3 separate regions of the Homo sapiens genome follow, and all the other regions are reported to be linked to region 3. Evidence: microRNA targets listed by miRTarBase, many of them from high-throughput screens and not tested one by one. Region 3 holds a microRNA gene; each other region holds the end of a gene's coding sequence.

Region 1 (7,098 bases), not on the chromosome of region 3:
GCTTGGCAGCTGTCAGGTAGCACTTCTGCTACCTGGGCCCCTTCAAGGGGTAGGCCCCAAGAAAAAAGAAGGCAACTCACCAGCCAGAACTTCTCATCCAGCCCTCCTGGCATAGAAGGAACATCTTTTATTCTTTGTGGGTATTGCCAAGTGGGGGACAGCCACTTGTTTCCTCCTCAGGGGAAACAGAGCTCCAAACTTTACTGTCACTGGCTCCCTAGAACAAGCCTCAGCTTCTCAACCTGAGCAAAAAAGTGGTTAAAGCAGATGGTGTCTGAAAACTATCAACTACCAAATCCCAGCACCCAATAACTCAGATGTTTATTTTGGAAGTCACTGCCTTCCTCCAAAAGATTCTGATTCAGGACAGATGGTGCAGAGACTCTTGGAGAGTGAATTCCCCAATGTGTTTAGAGGATGGTCAGGAGAGGATAGTGCATTTGCTTTCTTTCTGGGAATTTTATTAGCTGCTATAGGAACAGCCTTTGCTAAAGGCCACCTTCCCTTGGCTGGAAACCTGAGGAGGTGGCCGGCAGCTGCGCCCCCTGGTGGCCATTCTGTGGTCAGGCTGGTCCTGGGAGATGAAACTTCACCTTCACAGTAGACAAGAGCCCAAAACGCGGAGCACGGAAAGTGCCTGCTGCACATAGCAGGGCAGGGGCAGAGCCTGCAAACTGGGGAGGCCTCCCAGCCCCCAGGGCATTGTTGTGACTGCTATTTTGGTTGGGGGTTAGTACTAAAGACTATTTGAGCCCTTGCGCCTGTCTAGGCCTCACTGGACAAGATGACCTGACTTTCACTTCTTTCAACAACCCCCTCCCATTATGTCAGGCCCACATCACACTGTCTAGCAAAGGATCCATAACTCGGAATTTTTCACATAAGTGCAAAGACACATGTTAATAAACACTTTAGATTTATTCTGCCATTTCTGAAGCCACCTCATTTAATTTATACATAGGATATAAATGGCTATACATTTTTACACACTTTTATACAAGTTTAGGTTGTACTACTGAGTTTGTTAAAATGTACCCATTATTTACTCAAAATATTTATTGTTACAAGAAAACCGTAAGAAGCTTGTGTAACATGAACAGCAAGTATTGAAAACGAATATGTAAAGTAAATGGTTTTGCCCTGACTAAATCAGCCTCAGTATTTTATGCTTTTAGTAGAAAAGCCCATTAAACAAAATAGAATCCTGGGGGATCAAATCATATGAATGATTCATGAAATAACACTTCTGAAGCAACCCCAGAATCATATAAATGTAAGGGTTAAAGGTCATATGTACTAAGCATGGGTCAGAGGAATAGAATGGATTTGTTAATTTTACCCTAAATAAAAGGCGCTTGTGGGCAACAGCTCTGCCATCAATACACATGGGCAGATGTTTCCGAATCCAGCCATTCCCAGATTTCACTGACATGCCCTTTTCCACAGGCTCCCTGCTGATGAGATTTCCCCAGCAGCAGAAGTTTGACATCACTGCTCCCGGATGGGAGAATCAGAGCTCTCCTCATTTGGGTCAGGGGTGGCTGGCTCACGAGGTTTGGTCCAACCAGCAGAACCAGCTCCTTGGATCCTGGAATAAACCAAACATCAATGGTACCATGCGCTCTGTGCCCAGGGAGTGAAAGGCAGGTCCAGGGTGGGAAGAAGAGGGGCTGCTACCTTTTGGAGTGAAAAAAATGAGGTTTACACTGTAGTATAACAAAATGCCTTTTTGTAAAGGCCAGAAGAAATGGCTGTGCTGTGCTGCCTGAAGCAGAAAAACCTTCATGTACCAGGTGAATGTAAAGCCTTTCTCCTCCCACACACAATGGACTCACCCAGTATTACCCTCCACTACCACTTTTGACCCTCATAACAGCACCCTGGCGGGGGGGCAGATTGATGTTATCACCATTTACCAGATGAGGAAACTGAGGCCTGATGGGCAGTGATTTGTGCACTGCGACATAGGACTCAGTGAAGAGCCTAGCCAGCTGACGGTCAGCTGACTGGTGCACTCTTTCCCTCACCTTCTCTCTCAAGGGCACAGCTACACTCTTTCTCCACCATTATTAACACTCACAGGGCACAGGTAGAGCGTCCCCAGACCTGTGCAATATTCTACACGAAAACATTTGGAATGTGAGCAATGTCTGAACAGGGGCTTGCCAGGCACATCTGATCACCATAAATGCTCCCACCCCTGCCTGTCCTCACTTGTGCTGCACTATGCAAGCAAGCAGCAGGTTCTCAGAAGGCCACTGTCCTGCATGTCACAATGAGTGGCCAACTCCTTCACAGAACAGCAAATAGCAGCCCTGGCTACAAGGTGCAGTGTGCAACCCCCATATGCCAAGGGGCAGCTGCTATCTTCCAGCAGAGAGAGAACCCCCAGCTCTGCTCCCTACCTATGCCCTGCTTCCTGTGCCTCACACAGCCAGCCTTGCTGGCCTGCTGGCTATTGTCTCTGACTCTGAGCTGTGCTGACCACCAAGTGTTACTCCTCTCCAAGACTTGACTCCCAGGCATGGGTGGGAGAGTTGAACCTCAATGCAATCTGCTCCCACTCTGAAGCTCGTCTACCCACCCCATTTGTTACAATTAAAGATGGTTTTCTCATCCCTCCAGAGACTCCAGTTTCAGACTCTGTCTCCAGAGCTGGAATGTATAGGGCAGAGGTAGAAAGAGGCAGGAGAGTTGGAGAACAAGAGCACCTAGAAAAGAACAGAGGAGCTCAAGCTCATTTAATCAAAATGCTTAAATGTTTTAATTCCAGCATTCTCCAGAGTTCACAGAAAAGAGGGATGCAAGCCCAAAAAGCAAAAGCAGGAGCTTATGGTCACATGCCTCCAGCTGCAGGCAGTGGGGCCTCTGGTACTGAGAGGGAATGCCACCCGAATATGCCCCAGCTGTCTCCACCCAGGAAAAGGAAAGCCAGGTACACTTCTCATCACAGTAAGACTAGCCTAACAGGGGAAAACAGATTTACATGTTTCGTTCATTAGCATATTAGGGAAGGGGAAACCTTTTGGGCTCTGGCCCCGTGGTTGGGAAACCCTTCCTAAGAGCATGGAGCCACACTCTGGCCTTGATACAGTAGATGGGACTTAACACACTCTGATGCTCAAGGCCTTGCAGCATCTGATACCAGAAGGCACCTCTAAAGTTTTGTTTTCAACATTATTTCATCTATTCCCAGATCTAGTCCAGTGATGTCAGCTGCACAGGTAGCATTTAACTACTGGGAAAACAAAAGTGCTACAACAACAGTGAGTCCATGGTGGAGTGAGGATAACTCCTGGGATTTGGAACCAGTTTGCTGGTATCAAGGATCACACAAGAGGCTATAAACCTCCAACCCTGAACCAAGTCAAACCTAAGCCTGGGGATTTCCCTCGGATGAAATCACCAGAACTTCTTTCCTATTTTCAGTCTCTTCCTTCAGTGAGCTGAGGATTCTTTTAGCTAGCTGGATTTCAGTCAAACAATGTTTTTGTGGTCATTACTTGTACTGTTTTTCTAGTGCATCTTTTCCCTTTTGTTTGCAAAAGTCAATCTCACCCCATGTAGATGTTAACTGATATCCACACATTCGACCTGGTGTGGATAACATCTCTGGTAGTGCCTCGGTGGTCAGGAAGCATTACCAGGAAGGACTCATCTTCAAGGACCGTTTCTTTACTGCCTGCTGAATATGGATCATAGGCTCAGATGCCCAAAGCACCTGGGGTACAGGTCTACATGGCAACCCAATGCCACATAGGAAAAGAAAACAGTCCATTTTTAAGCCGTTCTTACCGACTTTTTTTTTTTTTTTTTTTGAGACGGAGTCTTGCTTTGTCACCAGGCTGGAGTGCAGTGGCTCGATCTCGGCTCACTGCAACCTCCACCTCCCGGGTTCAAGAGATTCTCCTGCCTCAGCCTCCTGAGTAGCTGGGGCTACAGGCACAAGCCACCGTGCCCAGCTAATTTTTGTATTTTTAGTAGAGATGGGGTTTCACCATGTTAGCCAGGATGGTCTCGATCTCTTGACCTCGTGATCTGCCCACCTCAGCTTCCCAAAGTGTTATTGACTTTTAAAGCTTTTTTGTTCTTCTCATTTAAAACATTTTACCTCCCCTCCTTAACTTCCCATTCTATTTCACCATCTCTTCAAAATTGTCTCCCAGAAAAACTGAAAATTCACCTGCTGGGTATGCAGAAAATTATGCAGATGTGAAATCAGTGTAGAGACAACTTTGGAGTTTATGTCTGAGTATGCTGCCAATATAATTTTCATATTCAGACTTTTTAGAGACAGGGTTTCACTCTGTCATGCAGGCTGGGGTGCAGTGGTGTGATTATAGCTCATGGAAGCCTCAAACTCCTGGACTCAAGGGATCCTCCTGCCTCAGACTCCCAAAGTGCTGGGATTACAGGCATGTGCCATCACATCCGGCTAATTTTTTTTTTTGTAGAGATGAATCTTACTATGTTGTCCAGGCTGGTCTCAAACTACTGGCCTCAACCGAGTCTCCTGCTTTGGCCTTCCAAAGTGCTGGGAATACAGGCATGAGCCATCATGCCTGGCCCATATCCAAATATTTTATGTTTGGTCAAAAATAGAAAATTCTATTATAAAAAATAAAGTTACTATGGCAACATTTTCCCAACATAGTTCCCAGTATATAAACTTATTTTTCTTAAAATGATAACAAGGTAGCTCAATAACAATACAATACCAGTGATAACCAAATATAATTGAATTTTTCTAAAACTACATTCTTACATTCCCTATCCACTCAACTCTTGTAATGGTTTTCCACTTTTAAAAACTATCAAAATAGGATTTTTAAAAATTTATCAAGACCACATAATGCAGTTGAACACTCAAAGTGTTCCATGCAACTGTGGTTGAACTATTCAGATTCCAGACTTCTACCAAGAACAATCCAAAGAGCAAACTCCCAAAATGACCTCCTGCGTGGTACAAAACAAGCCAGGCTGAAATTTCGGGAAACCTAAGGGATCTTATCCAGAACCATATTTTGGAAAACTGTGATCAATCAATTTTTTGACAGTGAAAGAGAGTAACTTTCCAGAGTATGTGTTAATTATATCTCTATCAAGCTTTAAAAAGTTAACAGATACTTAACTCTTGTTCATAAAAAATGAGGCCCTCAAGCTAATTAAGATGACTGGGAAAGGTGCAGAGGAGTAATTAATTTTGGAGGCGCTCTGGGAACAGGTACACAGGGTACAGTAGTCATCATCATTAAAACAACAGGCACTCAGCTCTACTGAAAAGGCTGATGACAGCAGCCCCTCCCAAGCGGATCTGTAAAGTGCCACTGAATCCATGTTCATTCACCTACTCCAGGTTGTGGTCAATTGTAAGTAATCCTGAAATTCTCATTTCTGCTCATGCTGACAAACTTATCATCTAGAAGTACTGGTTATTCAATTAATTTTTAAAATATTCGGATATACCCTGCAAATAAATATAAAACATCTCTGTACCCAAACAGTCCCACCACTATAAAAGGTTACATATAAATTAAATAAACTCAGATTTCTTAACCATTTTCTCAGCTTAAGTTTGCCCTCACCCTAAATGAAGTCCAATTTATATCCAAAATATAATTAAATATTCCAAAGGTATATCGAACCTAAGATATTGAAAAAATGTAAACAAAATTTATCTAGCTTACATTTATGAACCATATTTTTAGGTTTTTAATTCATCCTGTACTGACCCTCTGAAAAAAAAAACTAATCAAGTTATGTTTAGACTGAAAGCTGATTTGGATTTTAAAGTGGTTCCTTGGAGACAACTCTCAATGACTAAAACCAGTGTTATTGAATCAAGTGGTTTACTGTATCATTCAACTTAAAAGACCAAAATATTTCCTTTCTCTCTTCCAATAAAGCTCTTTCTGGATGAGCCCCCAGATCCAGCTGTCCTAGGTAAACGTGCTGAACTGGCTGGAGATCCTGCAGTAATGCTTGGCACAGAACCAAGGCTGGGTATCAAGCAACCTCATGACTTCCACTGCAACTGTTTAACATCCCCAATTCCTGGTTTTTCAGTCCAGTTGGCTGAAAAGGATGGAAACTGGAGTGTAAAGTAGAGAAGCAGAAAGAGAAACATAGATTGATCCTCAAAAGAAAATCAAAGAATCCATTCATCACAGTGTCATCCTCATACTCCACAGTCAGACTGCTTCTCCTGAAGCTGCCTTGTTAGTATCTGATATGAAGACAGAAAAGCCACTCCTATGTGGAAAAGGATTTGCCAGAGGTTCCTCAGCCCGTGCAGGTACATGTTGCCCAGGCAAATAAAGAGCAGCATAAGCACCACCTTCATAGTCCTGGCTGGACTGTAGAACAGGTACAAATAACACTGAAATGAGACCAGAAGAGGAATTCCAATCAGAGATAAAATGGCCACTAGATCATATGCAAAATTCACCTCCCACAGCTTCCATGAAGAGTGTCATTTCTCTCACATTAGCTGATTAAACTGAATTCATTACAGTAAAGCGTGGACCCACTGGTTAGGCTGCTAATTATTGGACGAAAGTGAGGATTTGGAAGATTAAAGGAAAGTGAAATAGATGTCACAGGAAGAATCAGTGCATGGCACATCTGAAAGAAGTTAAAGAAATAGACAGAAATGACCAGGCTGTTGGCAGTAGAGAAAGAAGAGCTGCACATAAGCTGCAGACAGCCAGGCTGCAGACAGGGGACCCTAACGTGACTGACTGGCCCCCCAGTGAAGTTTTTCTTCAGGGAGCCAGGACAGGCAAGCAAGCTGGTGAGAGAAAGCCATGCTTTTACTATTTTGGTTTCTCCTGAGCCACGACTACATTGAGCACCACTCTTCCCTTGGGCACCCTCCTTATCATGTCTTCCAAAGCATCTCTGAGTCAGGGAAAGGTCTCACAGCAGGGAGAGTGACTGGTATTTTGTGTATGACTATCACACATAAAAGGGGCCATTCTTGTTCTGCAAAAGGTGGAAACGGCATTTTGGTTCAATGCTTTGTTTTTTTTTTTTAAAAAAAGGACATCACTGAACATGGATCAATCTGACAAAGGTTCAATCTACAGAGGGAGGGAG
Region 2 (7,098 bases), not on the chromosome of region 3:
AGTAATTCCACTTCTGGCTAAATATCCAAAAGAATTTAAATATAGCCAGGGACTTGAACAGATATTCTCACACCCATGTTGATAGCGGCATTCTTCACAACAGCCCGAAGGCAGAAACAGCCTGAATACACACCAACAGATGAACGGATAAACAAAATGGGGTGTATACCACAATGTTATTCAGCCTTTAAAAGGAAGGGAATTCTGACACCTGCTGCAACATAGATGAACCTTGAGGACGTTATGCTAAGTGAAATAAAGCAGTCCACCAAGGGACAAATGCTGGGCTGGGGTGCGGTGGTTCATGCCTGTAATCCCAGCGCTTTGGGAGGCCAAGTTGTTCGGAACCACTGAGTTCGAGTTCGAGTCCAACCTGGCCAACATGGCGAAACTCCATCTTGCCGAGCGTGGTGGCTCACGCCTGTAAACCCAGCACTCTGGGAGGCCGAGGCAGGCAGATCACCCGAGGTCAGGAGTTCAAGACCAGCATGGCCAACATGGCGATACCCCGTCTCTACTAAAAATATAAAAATTTGCCAGGTGCTGTGGCTCACGCCTGTAATCCCAGCTACTCAGGAGGCTGAGGCAGAGTTGCTTGAACCTGAAAGGCGGAGGTTGCAGTGAGCCGAAATCATGCCACGGCACTCCAGCCTAGGCGACAAGAGTGAGACTCTGTCTCAAAAAAAAAAAAAAAAAAAAAAGAGAAGGGGAAGGAGAAGGAGGAGAAGGAAGAAAGAAACCCCACCTCTACCAAAGATACACACACACACAAATTAGCCCGGGCGTGCAGATGTATGCCTGTCGCCCCAGCTACTCAGGAGGCTGAGGTGGGAGAATCGCTCGAGTCCAGGAGGTTGAGGCTGAACTGAGCCATGATTGTGGCACTGCACTCCAGCCTGGGCGACAGAGTGGCACCTCTCTCAAAAAAAAAGAAAAAAAAAAAGGACAAGGCCGGGTGTGGTGGCTCATGCCTGTATAATCCCAGCACTTTGGGAGGCTGAGGCCAGTGGATCATGAGGTCAGGAGATCGAGACCATCCCGGCTAACCTGGTGAAAACCCGCTTCTACTAAAAATACAAAAAATTAGCCGGGCGTGGTGGCACGGGCCTGTAGTCCCAGCTACTCGGGAGGCTGAGGCAGGAGAATTGCTTGAACCTAGGAGGGGAAGGTTGCAGTGAGCTGAGATTGTGCCACTGCACTCCAGCCTGGGCAATAGAGCAAGACTCTGTCTCCAAAAAAAAAAAAAAAAAAGGACAAATACTGTATGAGGTACCTGGAATAACGGAACTCATAGAGACAGAAAGTAAAATGGTGGTTGCCAGTGAGTAAGGGAGGAATGGGGAGTTAGTATTTAATAGGTGGGGAGTTTTAGTTTGAGAAGATGAAAAATTCTGGATATGGATGGTGGTGATGGTTGCACAACACTGTGAACGTGCTTAACGCCACTGAACTGTACACTTAAAACTGGTTAAAATGGTAAATTCTATGTTGTGTGTGTGTGTGTATATATATATATATATATATTAACCCCGCCCCACAACCGGGTCTTGCACTATTGTCTAGGCTGGAGTATAGTGGTGCAATCACAGCTAACTGCAGCCTTGAACTGCTGGACTCATGCAATCCTCCCACTTCAGCCTCCTGAGTAGCTGGGACTAACAGGAATGTACCATCACACTTGGCTAATTTTTTTTTTTTTTTTTTTTGAGATGGAGTCTTACTTTGTCACCAGGCTGGAGTGCAGTGGTGCGACCACCACTCACTGCAACCTCTGCCTCCCGGGTTCAAGCGATTCCCCTGCCTCAGCCTTCCAAGTAGCTAGGACTACAGGCGTGTGCCACCACGCCCAAAGTGCTGAGATTACAGGCGTGAGCCACCGCACCCTGCCACTTGGCTGATTTTTTAAAAAACATTTTGTGGTGCCATGGTAACTCTGGCTTATCATATAGCCCTTATTATATAGTCATGTATATATAATAAAGGCATTATACAGTTCCCATGCTTAACAATGGGGATATGCTCTGCGAAATGTGTTGTTAGACGATTTTGTCATTGTGCAATCATAAAGTGTACTTACACAAACCTGGATGGTATAGTGTATCACACACCTTGGCTATATGGTATAGCCTATTGCTCCTAGGCGACAAACCTGTGCAGCATGTTCCTGTACTGAATACTGTAGGCAACTGTAATGCAATGGTATTTGTGTATCTAACATATGTAACCTAGAAAAGGCACAGTAAAAAAACAGTATAAAAAATGGGCTGGGTACACTGGCTCACCCCTGTAATCCTAAAATTTTGGAAGGCCAAGGCAGGAGCATTGTTTGAGCCCAGTAGTTCGAGATCAGTCTGGGCAACGTGGTGAGACCCCATCTCCGCAGGAAATAAAAACAATTAGCTGGGCACGGTGGTGCATGCCTGTAGTGCCAGCTACTCGGGAGGCTGAGGCAGGAGGATCACTTGAGCCCAGGAGTTTAAGGCTACAGTGAGATAGGATCATGCCACTGCACCCCAGTGACAGCAACAGATCAAGACTCTGTCTCTAAAAAGAAAAATTTTCCTTCTTCAATAATAAATTAATCTTAGCTTAATGGTAACGTTTTAACTTTATAAGCTTTTGAACTGTAAAATTTGACTCTTGTAATAACACTTAGCTTAAAACACACACTGCAAGTATACAAAAACATTTTTTCTTTATATCTTTTTTTTTTTTTTTTTTTTTTTGAGACGGAGTCTCACTCTGTCGCCCAGGCTAGAGTGCAGTGGCCCGATCTCGGCTCACTGCAAGCTCCGCCTCCCAGGTTCACACCATTCTCCTGCCTCAGCCTCCCAAGTAGCTGGGACTACAGGCCCCCGCCACCATGCCCGGCTAATTTTTTGTACTTTTAGTAGAGACGGGGTTTCACCGTGTTAGCCAGGATGGTCTCGATCTCCTGACCTCGTGATCCACCCACCTCAGCCTCCCAAAGTGCTGGGATTACAGGCGTGAGCCACCGCACCCGGTTTATATCTTTATTTTTAAGCTTTTTTTTCTTTTTTGAGACTGAGTCTCACTGTTGCCCAGGCTGGAGTGCAGTGGCGTGATCTTGGCTCACTGCAAACTCTGCCTCCCGGGTTCAAGTGATTCTCCTGCCTCAGCCTCCTGAGTAGCTGAGATTACAGGCTTGTGCCACCATGCCCAGCTAATTTTTGTATGTTTACTAGAGACAGGGTTTTGCCATGCTGGCCAGGCTGGTCTCGAACTTCTGACCTCAGGTGAACCACCCACCTCGGCCTCCCAAAGTGCTGGGATTACAGGCGTGAGCCACCATGCCTGGCCTCTGGCTGCAGTATCTGTGGCAGAATGGGACAGGCGAGGATTGAGAACCAGGACATCTGGCTTTTGCCTGTTAACTGACTGTGTGACCCTTGGGAAGTTACTTCTGCTTTTTGGGTTTCTTCATTTGAACAATGAATGGAGGACTAGGTAATTGGTATGCTTTTCAAACATTGGAGAGATTTTCCACACCAACATTCTAGAGGCTAGCTCCAGACATCCTCTTGTGCCCCTTCTCTCTCATGAAAAATGTCCAGTACTGCTGATATAGTTTGGATGTGTGTCCCCACCCAAATCTCATATTGAAATGTAATCCCCAATCTTGGAGGTGGGGCCTAGTGGGAGGTGACTGGATCATGGGGGTGCATTTCTCATGAATGGTTTAACAGCATTCCACTTGGTACTGTCCTCTTGAGTGTTCTTGTGAGATCTGGGTGTTTAAAACGTGTGTGGCACCTCCTCCTGCGCCCCCTTGCTCCTACTCTGGCCACATAAGATGTGTCTGCTTCCCCTTTGCCTTTCCACTATGATTGTAAGTTTCCTGAGGCCTCCCCAGAAGCAGAAGCTACTATGCTTCCTGTATAGCCTGCAGAACTGTGAGCCAATTAAACCTCTTTTCTTTATAAATTAAATTACCCAGTCTCAGGTATTTCTTTACAGCAATTCGAGAATGGATTAATACAATTGCCAATTTTCCTTTTCTTTTTTTAAAAAATAAAAGCCAAAATAACACTTTTAAGATCCCAGGTTTTAGACAAGGCAGCTGTAGTCTCTCCATCATCCTCACTGTCCATTTGCTTCTTCCTGGGACAGACACTGTGGCCCAGTGAAGCTGAGGGGACCCTGGGATTCAAAGCTGGTGGAATGGACCCTCCCTCCCCCCACAAGCTGTAATAACCTGCTGGAATCCCACACAACCTGAGGGCTTCACTTGTCAACAGCTCCCTTCCCTCAGAGGCTATTTTGAGGCAGGCATTCGGTGTTTTATGACTGAGCTACCCAGGAGAATGGTTTGAGGCCACACTCAACTGTTCCAAGGAGCAGCACTGGACCAAAGGCTGCTTGGTTCCCTGCGGTTCCTGATGCCACCCCTTCTCTTCAGGGTGGTTACCTAGAAGACAACAGTACATGAGGCTTCCAGCCCAGCCCTAGGAGATCCATCCCAAAGACCCCACAGAGACCTGCATGGGAGGTGGGGCCACAGGTCTGGTATCAGGCAAACCTAGGTTGGAACACTGGCTCCATAAAGAGGAAGTCACTTAACCTTCTCTGGGGCATGGTTTCTTCATCTGTTCCCACCTCTGAAGACTATCGTAAGACAGAATGAAAGTTAAGCAACTTAACGCAACGCCCAGGATACCAGAATTATTCTAAATGGCAGAATCCTACTTAGTCTGTCATCTTGGGAGTTCTCTAGGCAGGCAGGTTGCCAGGGGTGGGGCTGAGATCCAGATGTGCTCTAGGTCCCTGTCTGCTGCAGAATCATGTGGCTGCTGGACCTGGGGGTCCCCCAGGTCCTTGCAGGAGCTGAGGGTAGGAGACTCCATTTGCCAAACAACTTAGAACTTTGGGCCTCAGTTTCCTTGTCTTTAAAAGGAACAGGTAAAGAATTCATAAAAACAATTGACAAGGGCTGCCTGGAATTTCCCTGTAATCTCTTCCAGGCAGAGGAGGCCTCAGAGGTGAGAGTAAGAGCAGGAAAACAGGGACAGGTTTCACTCTGTTGCCCAGGTGTGGTGGCTCAGGTCTGTAATCCCAGCACTTTGGGAGGCTGAGATGGGAGGATCGCTTGAGGCCAGGAGTTTGAGATCAGCCTGGGCAACACAGTGAGACCCATCTCTGCCAAAAAAATAAAACAATAAACCAGGCATGGTGGTACATACCTGTTAGTCTTAGCTACTCGGGAGGCTGAGGCAGGAGGACTGATTGATCCCAGGAGTTCAAGGCTGCAGTAAGCTGTGCCTGGGTGACAGAGCAAGACCCTGTCTCTCAAGAAAAAAAAAAAAAAAAAAAAAAGGCTGGGCGTGGTGGCTCATGCCTGTAACCCCAGCACTTTGGGAGGCTGAGGCAGGTGGATCATGAGGTCAGGAGATTGAGACCATCCTGGCCAACATGGCAAAACCCCGTCTCTATTAAAGAATGCAAAAAATTAGCCGGATGTGGTGGCACACGCCTGTAGTCCCAGCTACTCAGGGGACTTGCTTGAACCTGGGAGCGGGAGGTTGCAGTGAGCCGAGATCACACCACTGCACTCCAGCGTGGCAACAGAGCAAGACTCTGTCTCAAAAAGAAGAAACAAACAAACAACAAAAAAAACAGCACAGAAGGGTGGTGCTGTGGGCAGAGGGGTATTTCCAGTGGATGGGCTGTTACTGTTTTCTCAGGTTGGTCAAGATCACAGGCCCATGGAATGCTGGGGCCAGAAGGCACTAAGGCCACAGCATCAACATCTACTTCCCAGAGCATAACACCAAGGCCCAGAGCAACTGGGTAATGTGCTGGGAGCTACAATGAGTTTGAGGCAGAGTCTGGGCTAAAACCCATGTCTCCAGACGGGTTTAGGGAGGATCTTAGAAGTTTTAGAAAACATAATGCTTAGTTATGGCTGGGTGTGGTGTCTCACGCCTGTAATCCCAGCACTTTGGGAGGCCGAGGCAGGCAGATCACCTGAGGTCAGGAGTTTGAGACCAGCCTGGCCAACATGGTGAAACCCCATCTCTATAAAAGTTACCCAGGTGTGTTATGCACCTGTAATCCCAGCTACTCGGGAGGCTGAGGCAGGAGAATCATTTGAACCTGGGAGGCAGAGGTTGTAGTGAGCCGCCGAGATCGTGCCACTGCACTCCAGCCTGGGCGACAGAGCGAGACTCTGTCTCAAAAAAAAAAAAAGAAAATATAATGCTTAGTTCTGGTTTAAATTTGCTCACTGACTTTTCTTCTTTGAAGAATCAAATCTAGCTTATGACTCATAAACTAGATAACTATGATAATCTAGTTTATGATTCAGATACACTACGGTGGTAAATTCCTACAATTCAACTTCATGATTTAGCTCTAGTGCTGTAGGAGGGGTCCAGAGAGCTGAGGTCTGCCACTGCACTCAGGCTTGTGGGGGCTGGGTAACACCACCCTGCAGGTGGTAGTGAGAAAAAGAGGACTTGGGTGTTGTTATCTTCTGTGGCAGCAGCTGCCCTGGGGGTTCTGCAGGGAGGGGACAGGGTGAGGCCTTGGGGATAGGGCATTCGGGGCCCACCAGCCTGTGTGGCCTCAGTCTCAGGGAGAAGGAGCACCCGGGTGGCAGTAGAAGCCTCCAGGGAACCTCAGCTGGCATCATTGATGGGAGTGCGGGTGCCACCCAGCAGTCTCTCCTGCTCGCTCTCCTCTGCCAGGGGCCGGCCCCTGGACAGGCGGCCCAGCAGCGGACGGTGTAGCCCATTGTAGAGGGCAGTGCCTATAAGGAGTATGAGGAAGCCAAGGATCTGCAGTGCATGGAAGGCCTCCCAGCCCAGTGCCAGGCTCAGTGCCCAGATGACAACGGTGCGCAAGCTGTCCAACACCATGCGGGTGGTGGCGCTCAGTTCCTTGGTGACGCTGATGCCTGCGAAGTTGAAGAAGGCAATGCTGCTGATGTTGCCCAGCAGTGCCACGGCAATGAGCGGCTGCTGGCCCACCTGGCAGAAGGCGTCCAATGCATCCTCCAGTGTCCCACGAGGGTTTCCGCTGAAGGAGCCGGCGGGGATGTAGTACATGGGCACCAGCAGCAGGGAGAGGATCACAAAG
Region 3 (7,118 bases):
GTGAGCCGAGATCACACCACTGCACTCCAGCCTGGAAACAGAGCAAGACTCGTCTCAAAAAAAAAAAAAAAAAAAAGGCCGGGCGCCGTGGCTCACACCTGTAATCCCAGCACTTTGGGAGGCCAAGGCGGGTGGATCACGAGGTCAGGAGATTGAGACCATCCTGGCTAACACGGTGAAACCTCGTCTCTACTAAAAATACAAAAAATTAGCTGGGCGTGGTGGCGGGCACCTGTAGTCCCAACTACTTGGGAGGCTGAGGCAGGAGAATGGTGTGAACCCGGGAGGTGGAGCTTGCAGTGAGCCGAGATGGCGCCACTGCACTCCAGCCTGGGCGACAGAGCGAGACTGTCTCAAAAACAACAACAACAACAAAACTAAAGCTAAAGCTCTTTGCAGGCCTCCTGTTCTGAGAGTGTCCGGTATAAGAGCTGCTGACAGCTTTCTGACATGGGCCGTGGCAGCACCCAGACCTAGCTCCCCCAGCAGATAGTGGGAAGCTCGAGTTGCACAAAGATCAAAGCTCATTTCAAGGTCAGATTCCTGCTGTAGGAGCAGCTGAGCAATGAAGGAAATACATCAGCCCCCTCAGCTATATTCTTAGCCCAGGGCCTACAACCTAGTGAGTTAAGGGCTCAGAAAGTATGAAGCACTTTTCAATGTAACAGTTTATGTGCATCTTTCATTACCAGCATGGAACCAACCCTGCCCCATATCAAGTCCCACTCTGGGCAATTCATAAAACTGTTCTGACTCAAGAGAACAGGTTTTGTTGAAAGTGAAAGGAAGGACAGTTGCAAGAGTCAGAAGAGACCTTGGAGAGGCCAAGAGAGAAAAAGCCATGAGAGGGTAAATCACAGAGGCAAAGAGTTATTAACACCTCCCATTTGCATAGTGCTAGACTGTTTTCAAAACACATGACCCCAAGACCAGGACTCCCACGCCCAAACCTCCCAACCCACAACCATCACACAGATCGCCATTTTCCTTATTTCTCAGTATGAATGTCATTCCAGAAATAGCTGAGTCTCTGAAAGGCCTCCATCCTAAACAATGTGGCCTTTGCCCATATGCTTCGCCCACCAGCTCAAACATGCCCAAAGCCCAGCGTGGGTCTTGCCCCCTGGGCTTCAACTTCTCCCCCAGCTGGTGGCTTTGAAATGGGCTTGCTGGTCAGGCTAACTTTGCCTATGATTCATGCGGAAAGCAAAACAGATGGAGACAACTATGTGCCAGCATGGAGCTCACAAAGGCGATGAAGGTGACGTGGGCGGCTCTCTCAACAGGTAATCCTGGGGGTATTTTAGCTAGAGCAAAGCCTGTGTCTGGCCACTAGTGGGCACAAACTGCTCAGTAAGTGGAAGGAATCTTCATGTCAAGGTATTCCAGCTAACTTTGATACAGTTATTCAATGAACTGCATTCCTAATTAAGAGGCTTTGTGGCAGGCACAGAGCTAGTTTGTCAGGGTCTAGTTCTGCACTTTGACATCCATATTCTTGCTCTGCTAGTGAGTTTTTGGACTTCTAAAGGGAATAACACGCAGCCACTGAGGTACCTGAGGTTACTGGATAATAGTAAGCTGTCTGAGGCTTTTTTATACCCTTGTTGGAAAACTCTAGAAACAGGGAAACAGAGTAGGCTTTGTTTCTCTAAGAATTGCTCTTGGAAGACTTACTCCACCAGATACAAAAGAAAAAGGAGGGGAGTGCATTGTACGATGAAGGATATCAATCTCCCTCCTTGGTAATTCACAATGTACCATGAATGATCAAAGCCTGCTTAACTTTCAAAACTTAGTGTCTTTCAAACGGATTTATCAGGAGACTTGTTTTTGTTTTTGTTTTTTAAAAGAAGAGCTCACTTAAAAACACTGAGTTTGGCCATAGAAAATGACGGGAAAGGCAGTTGCAATTGCAGTCATGAACTGCATCAGTGGAGAATGAACAGGGAATAATTCGCTTAGTTTTAAGATCTTCAGGTTTAGGAGGAATTCTCCCCATAGAAATAATAGAGTTCTCCTCCTTCTTTCCCCTAAAGTATGAAAAAAGAACACGCATTATGGAAATGAAGAGCTAGAACAAAAGAGCTGCTACCCCCACCAGTGACAGTAAACCAATGCCCGTTTACAAGCACAAAACCCATCTCTGCTCCCTCTGCCTACTGCAATTCTACCCCATTGCCAAGGCCCAGCTCAGAGGCCACCTCCTTTTAGGATCCCTCGATGCCACAATTACATCCTGAACATGAACAGAGGCTCCGGGACCCATGCAATGTGCAGGTCCTACCTCAACTTCAGGTCCTACCTCAATGCCTGCTCTGCTTTTAGGAAACCAGGGTACCTGCCCCAGGTTACCTAATTTGTTACAGGCAGACCCGGTGCAGAAAAACAAGGATTCCCTGATGCCCAGACTACTAGTTTTTCCACTACAACACACTGGGGGTGCAGAGAAGTCAATGATATGCTTGCAATCTAATGAATTAAATTATTCTACCACCATTCTTCAGACTTAGAATCCACAAAAACTAGAGAGGGTGGAAGGAGAATGGTGTGGCAAAGAGAGAGCGGCTTCCCTTATTCTCTGCTCATCAGCCTGCCAAGCCAAACCACTGACCAAACTTCAGAAGGGCAAGAAGAGGCCCTGCTTATGCAGCTGGGACCAGCACCAGAGAAGCCACTGAAAGAAGGAAGGAAAGAAAAACTGCAATCGTCAACTGTTTGAAGAGTCATCGTGTAGAGGAGAGACGGGGGTCACCCTGCAGTCATTGTCCAGGAGGCACTGTGGAGATTTAAATTCTTTAAGGACGTGCCAAGCAACTTGATAAAACCCAAGTCCAGCACATCAGGCATGAATGAAGGCAACTAGAAGTGAATGGACAAAAGAGGGGCAGTGTTGGGTTTAACAAGGTAATTTCTTTTTTTGAGACGGAGTCTCACTCTGTCGCTCAGGCTGGCGTGCAGTGGTGCGATCTCGGCTCACTGCAAGCTCCGCCTCCCGGGTTCACGCCATTCTCCTGCCTCAGCCTCCCGAGTAGCTGGGACTACAGGCACCGGCCACCACGCCCGGCTAATTTTGTTTTGTATTTTTAGTAGAGACAGGGTTTCACCGTGTTAGCCAGGATGGTCTCAATCTCCTGACCTTGTAATCCGCCCGCCTCAGCCTCCCAAAGTGCTGGGATTATAGGCGTGAGCCACCGCGCCCAGCCGAGGTAATTTCTTAAGTGACAATATCTCCTGGCATTCCTCCCTCATCACTGGCTGTTCATCCCCAGTCTCCTCTCCTTCCTGTACCCTCGTTAACCCCTGGCATGCCCAAGACTTAGCTCTGAACCCTGTTCCCCTTTTCTGCCTTCTGCTCTCAACTCCTCCCCAAGTAACTGTATTCAGCACCACAACATTGAATACCCTTCGGTATAGAGGAATGACTCTTGACTTTGAATTTCCAGCCCAGACCTCTCCCCTAAGCCAAAGACTTCTAAATTGAAGTGATTTGCTGACCTCTCTGATGGTCAAAATATAAATCCTGATTTCTACACCTTCCCGCAAATCTTCTGTTCCTCCTCCAGTCTCCCCATCTCAGTCCAAGATTCAGTTACACACCAGTTGCTCAAGCCCAAAACGTAGAGTCATCTAGAATCATTCTTCCCTAACTCCCTACATCTAACCCATCAGCAAACCCTGTCATGAGACCTGTTTTCTTCTCTACTTCCCCTCCCTAGCTAAGCCACCAGCTACCTCCTAGAGTTCTTGTGAGGATTAAATGCATTGCTTTTCAAAGAATGCCTGGCACTTACGTGAGCTGTTTGTATTCTTAACATCATTGTCATTGTCATCATTGTCATCTCAGTGTCATCATCATGTCCAGTCTGGACTATGACCACAAACTCCTCACTGGTCCCCAGTTTCCACTCTTGCCTCTCCCCAGAATTCATTCTCAACAGCCAGAATGAGCTTACAAAACATGAATCAAATCATGACACTCTTCTGCTTAAAACCCTTCAATGATGTCCCAACTGTCCTTCTCAGTACCACAGCCTGTGAGGCACCAGCGATCCTGCTCCCATCCCTCTCTCCCGCATTCCCCACCCTCCTTTCTTCAGCTAACTCAGGGCCTTGGTTCTTCCCTTTACCTCCTAGAATTTTCTTCCCATGGTTCTTCCTATAACTGGTCCTTCCCTGTCTTCTAAATCTCAGACCACATCACTATGGAAGGAAGAGGCCTTCCCTGAGCAGCTCATTCCTCCAGTGATGACTTTCCATTGGATCACCCTATTTGTTTCCTGCAGAGCATGTTCCACTACCCATAGTGATGCATGTATTGTGTATTGCCTGTTTCCTCCAACTCCTTGTGAGCTGCACAATGGCAGGGACCTGCTCTTTCTTGTTCATCTCTGTGCACCCCATTTCTAGAACAGTGCCCAGTACATAGGACAGGCTCAATAGAGTTGAAGAACACATGAATGGATCTCACTATTAGCTCTTCAAAAACAAAAGAGGCTCTCTTGAAGGTAATAAGTTCCCCATCAGTGGTAGGATGAACATGTGGTAGGCATATTGCAGAGGGGTCTGTGGCTCGATGGGATAGGAAGGAGGGATGGGCCAGATGACTCCGGGTCCCTGCCAGTGTTGGGGGCCACTTGTGTGTGGATGACTGCACACTCATGTGGCCCCCAGCACTGGCAGGGACCTGACCACAGTCAGAAGGCTTCATCCCAGACAGCCTTCTCTCGGGCACCAAAGATCAACATCCACAACCTCAGGCTGCACCATGGCCAGTCCCTGCTCCTGAAATGCAAGGGATGTTTTCTTGGTGCTGGTGAAATCTTGGGGATACAATTGAAGTTTTTTTAAAGCAAAGACTATAGATTCCAGGTCATACAGTTCAGACACAGGTTCAAACAAACATTTCATACTAATTCCTGGGTATTGGCATCAGAGAAACCCTAAGGGTTGAAATCCTGGCATGTTGACAACACATTCCGTCCTCTGTACCTCCCTTGTACCACCAGGGTCTCAGCATCTCATAAGAGCCTGTAAAATCCAGAGCCATTCCTTGGGTAGAGATTATGGGTTGGCTGAGGGAGCCACGAAGATTTTAAAATGTAAAACATGAACCCATAAATGCAGAAGGTCTCCCGTGTTTTCTAAAATCTGGCCAAAAGCTGAGCCACAGACAAGGAAATTGTCTGGTGTCCTTGCCAAAATGACAGTGTCACCAAATTGATAAACAAGTCTGGGATCGTTTTGAAGACAGCGATGATAGGAGACCACCAAGGGCTCAGGTTGGGGGCTGCTGAGACTGGCAAGATTTAGTTTCTCTAATTTTCAACCCAAAGCATTGATCTAATTCCTCACACAACCTATTGATAGTCATGAGTTTGCTGTTGCTGCTGCTGCTGCTGCTGCTGCTGCTGCTGCTGCTGTTTAAATGGAAAAGAAGAGTAGTAAGTGGTCATCTTCTCAGCGTCTGGTGCTGGTCCCGCCCACACACTGTGGCAGAGCAGACCCACCTGTTGTCACTGGGAAATGAGGGGCTGCAGGTACTGCCCTTAGACAATGGAGGTGGCCAAGGACGTTTGGGGACAGATTACAGGAAAGCTCAACAATTCCCTTCATGCTTTGGTGTTGAGCACTGGCCTCCTTTTTAAAAACAAAAGTGATTCAAAAAGGGGCACATTTTTTGTGCCTAACACCTCAGCATGAAAAAGTTTATCAACTACCTTTTCTTCTGAGACAAGAGAGGACTTTGTGAGCAGGGACAGGCCCTGAGAGACAGATTTTACTGAAGACAAACTGCCTGGGTCCTGCCTCATCACTGAAGCTGATGAAGACCAGCCAGGGGCCAGGGCAAGCCAGGACTGTGCCCTTCTAGCTCTTGGGCTCCCAAGCCGCCTGTGGCTTAATTCCAGTATTCTGACCCATTCTGCTACACGTCAGGTCCACACAAATTAAACAAAAAGCAGGGGAATGCTTGTGAGAACTTGGACTTGATATTTGGATCTTGGAGACTTCAAAACAAAAAGCACTGGTTCATTCAATAGCAGGGCAAATGTTTTGCCTGAATCCTTTGGGTCAGTAGATTTTAAACTCACCCATAGGGTCTTGGGGAGGAGGCTTGGCACACCCCTCCCCCTCACCAGAGCCTTCCAGATTGTATGAGTTTGCAAACTAAAGCTCCAGGAACTGGCCTCATTCAAAGCGACGCCATGGACCCTGCGTGCCATGCCCCAGGGCTCCACTCTCTTAATCAAGGCAGAGGGAACCTACTTACTACTCAAAACCAATTTTCTAACATAAAATGTTCACAGTTATTTTCTGATTGTGAAAATAAAAGATCTCAATGAGGAAAACAGGTAAGGCAGCAAAAGAAAGAAAACAGCCAAAGTGATAAGAATCCCGTCACCCAAAATAATCACTGAAAATATACCGATGCATTTCTACCTTGTACAATTTCTGATATATTCTGCCTTATAGAGGCTTCTGGACTGTCACTCCAACTTGGAATCAAATGGACCACTGAGAAACCCGTGGAAGACAGCAGGTCTAAGGAAATCACAAAGATTAGAAATGCATCCATGTGCACCCAACTCCTTCCTAGTGGGGGTGGGGGGTACCTTTGAGATGGTCTGTGATTCTACTTACCCCTCACTCTCTGTTCCCACTAGTCTGCCCTGCCCTCTGTCCCTCAACTACGCCAAGCTCCTTCCCTCCCCAGCGATCTTGCACTTGACGGTCCTTCTGTATGGAACCTCCCCGAGATGTTCATATGGCTGGCTCCTGGCCACTCCTCAAGGAGACCTTCCTTCACCACTGCAATCCCTCTTTATCCCATTACCCTGTCTTATATAGTTCTTACCATTGCCCCCAAATTCTCCATGTTTACTGACTGGTTTGTCCAGTAAAACATAAGCTCTTGTTCACTCTTGTAACCTTAGCACCTGCAATAGTCTCTGGTACACGAGAGTTGTTCAAGAAATAGTCCTGCATGAAAGATCAGAAGAGAAATGGAGAGACTCCCGAAGTGGGAAGTTCACATTTCAGGACGTGAGAAAACGCTGAAATTCCAAGATGAGGGGAAGAGAGATGGGAGGTGAGACTTAACAGAAGCAGGAGTGGAT

What was found. Region 3 holds the annotated microRNA hsa-miR-4731-5p (UGCUGGGGGCCACAUGAGUGUG, at 4,655-4,676, opposite strand). A microRNA usually pairs through its seed, bases 2 to 8, with sites in the 3' UTR of a target mRNA and lowers its output. Matches are read on the target gene's strand: a 7mer-m8 pairs with bases 2 to 8, a 7mer-A1 pairs with bases 2 to 7 and ends in A, and an 8mer does both.
Region 1: the mRNA of SEC22C is a reported target of hsa-miR-4731-5p. Seed matches in the 3' UTR shown: 7mer-A1 at 4,533-4,539, 7mer-A1 at 4,402-4,408, 7mer-m8 at 4,318-4,324, 7mer-A1 at 4,185-4,191 and 7mer-m8 at 3,930-3,936.
Region 2: miRTarBase lists SLC35F6 as a target of hsa-miR-4731-5p. Seed matches in the 3' UTR shown: 7mer-A1 at 5,815-5,821 and 8mer at 5,730-5,737.

What each region holds. Positions count from the first base shown.
Region 1 is chr3:42,547,070-42,554,167 of GRCh38, forward strand. It overlaps SEC22C (SEC22 homolog C, vesicle trafficking protein), which reads right to left. Exons shown (of 7, transcript NM_032970.4): 7 at 900-6,379. The coding sequence ends at 6,179. Among named protein-coding and RNA genes, the nearest start is that of VIPR1-AS1, 18 kb to the left of the region's middle.
Region 2 is chr2:26,778,052-26,785,149 of GRCh38, reverse strand. It overlaps SLC35F6 (solute carrier family 35 member F6), which reads right to left. Exons shown (of 6, transcript NM_017877.4): 6 at 3,919-7,098. The coding sequence ends at 6,639. Among named protein-coding and RNA genes, the nearest start is that of CENPA, 4.5 kb to the left of the region's middle. RefSeq lists an enhancer at 1-693.
Region 3 is chr17:15,247,012-15,254,129 of GRCh38, forward strand. It overlaps MIR4731 (microRNA 4731), which reads right to left and starts at 4,685; the gene lies at 4,616-4,685. All of the region lies in intron 3 of PMP22 (peripheral myelin protein 22), which reads right to left.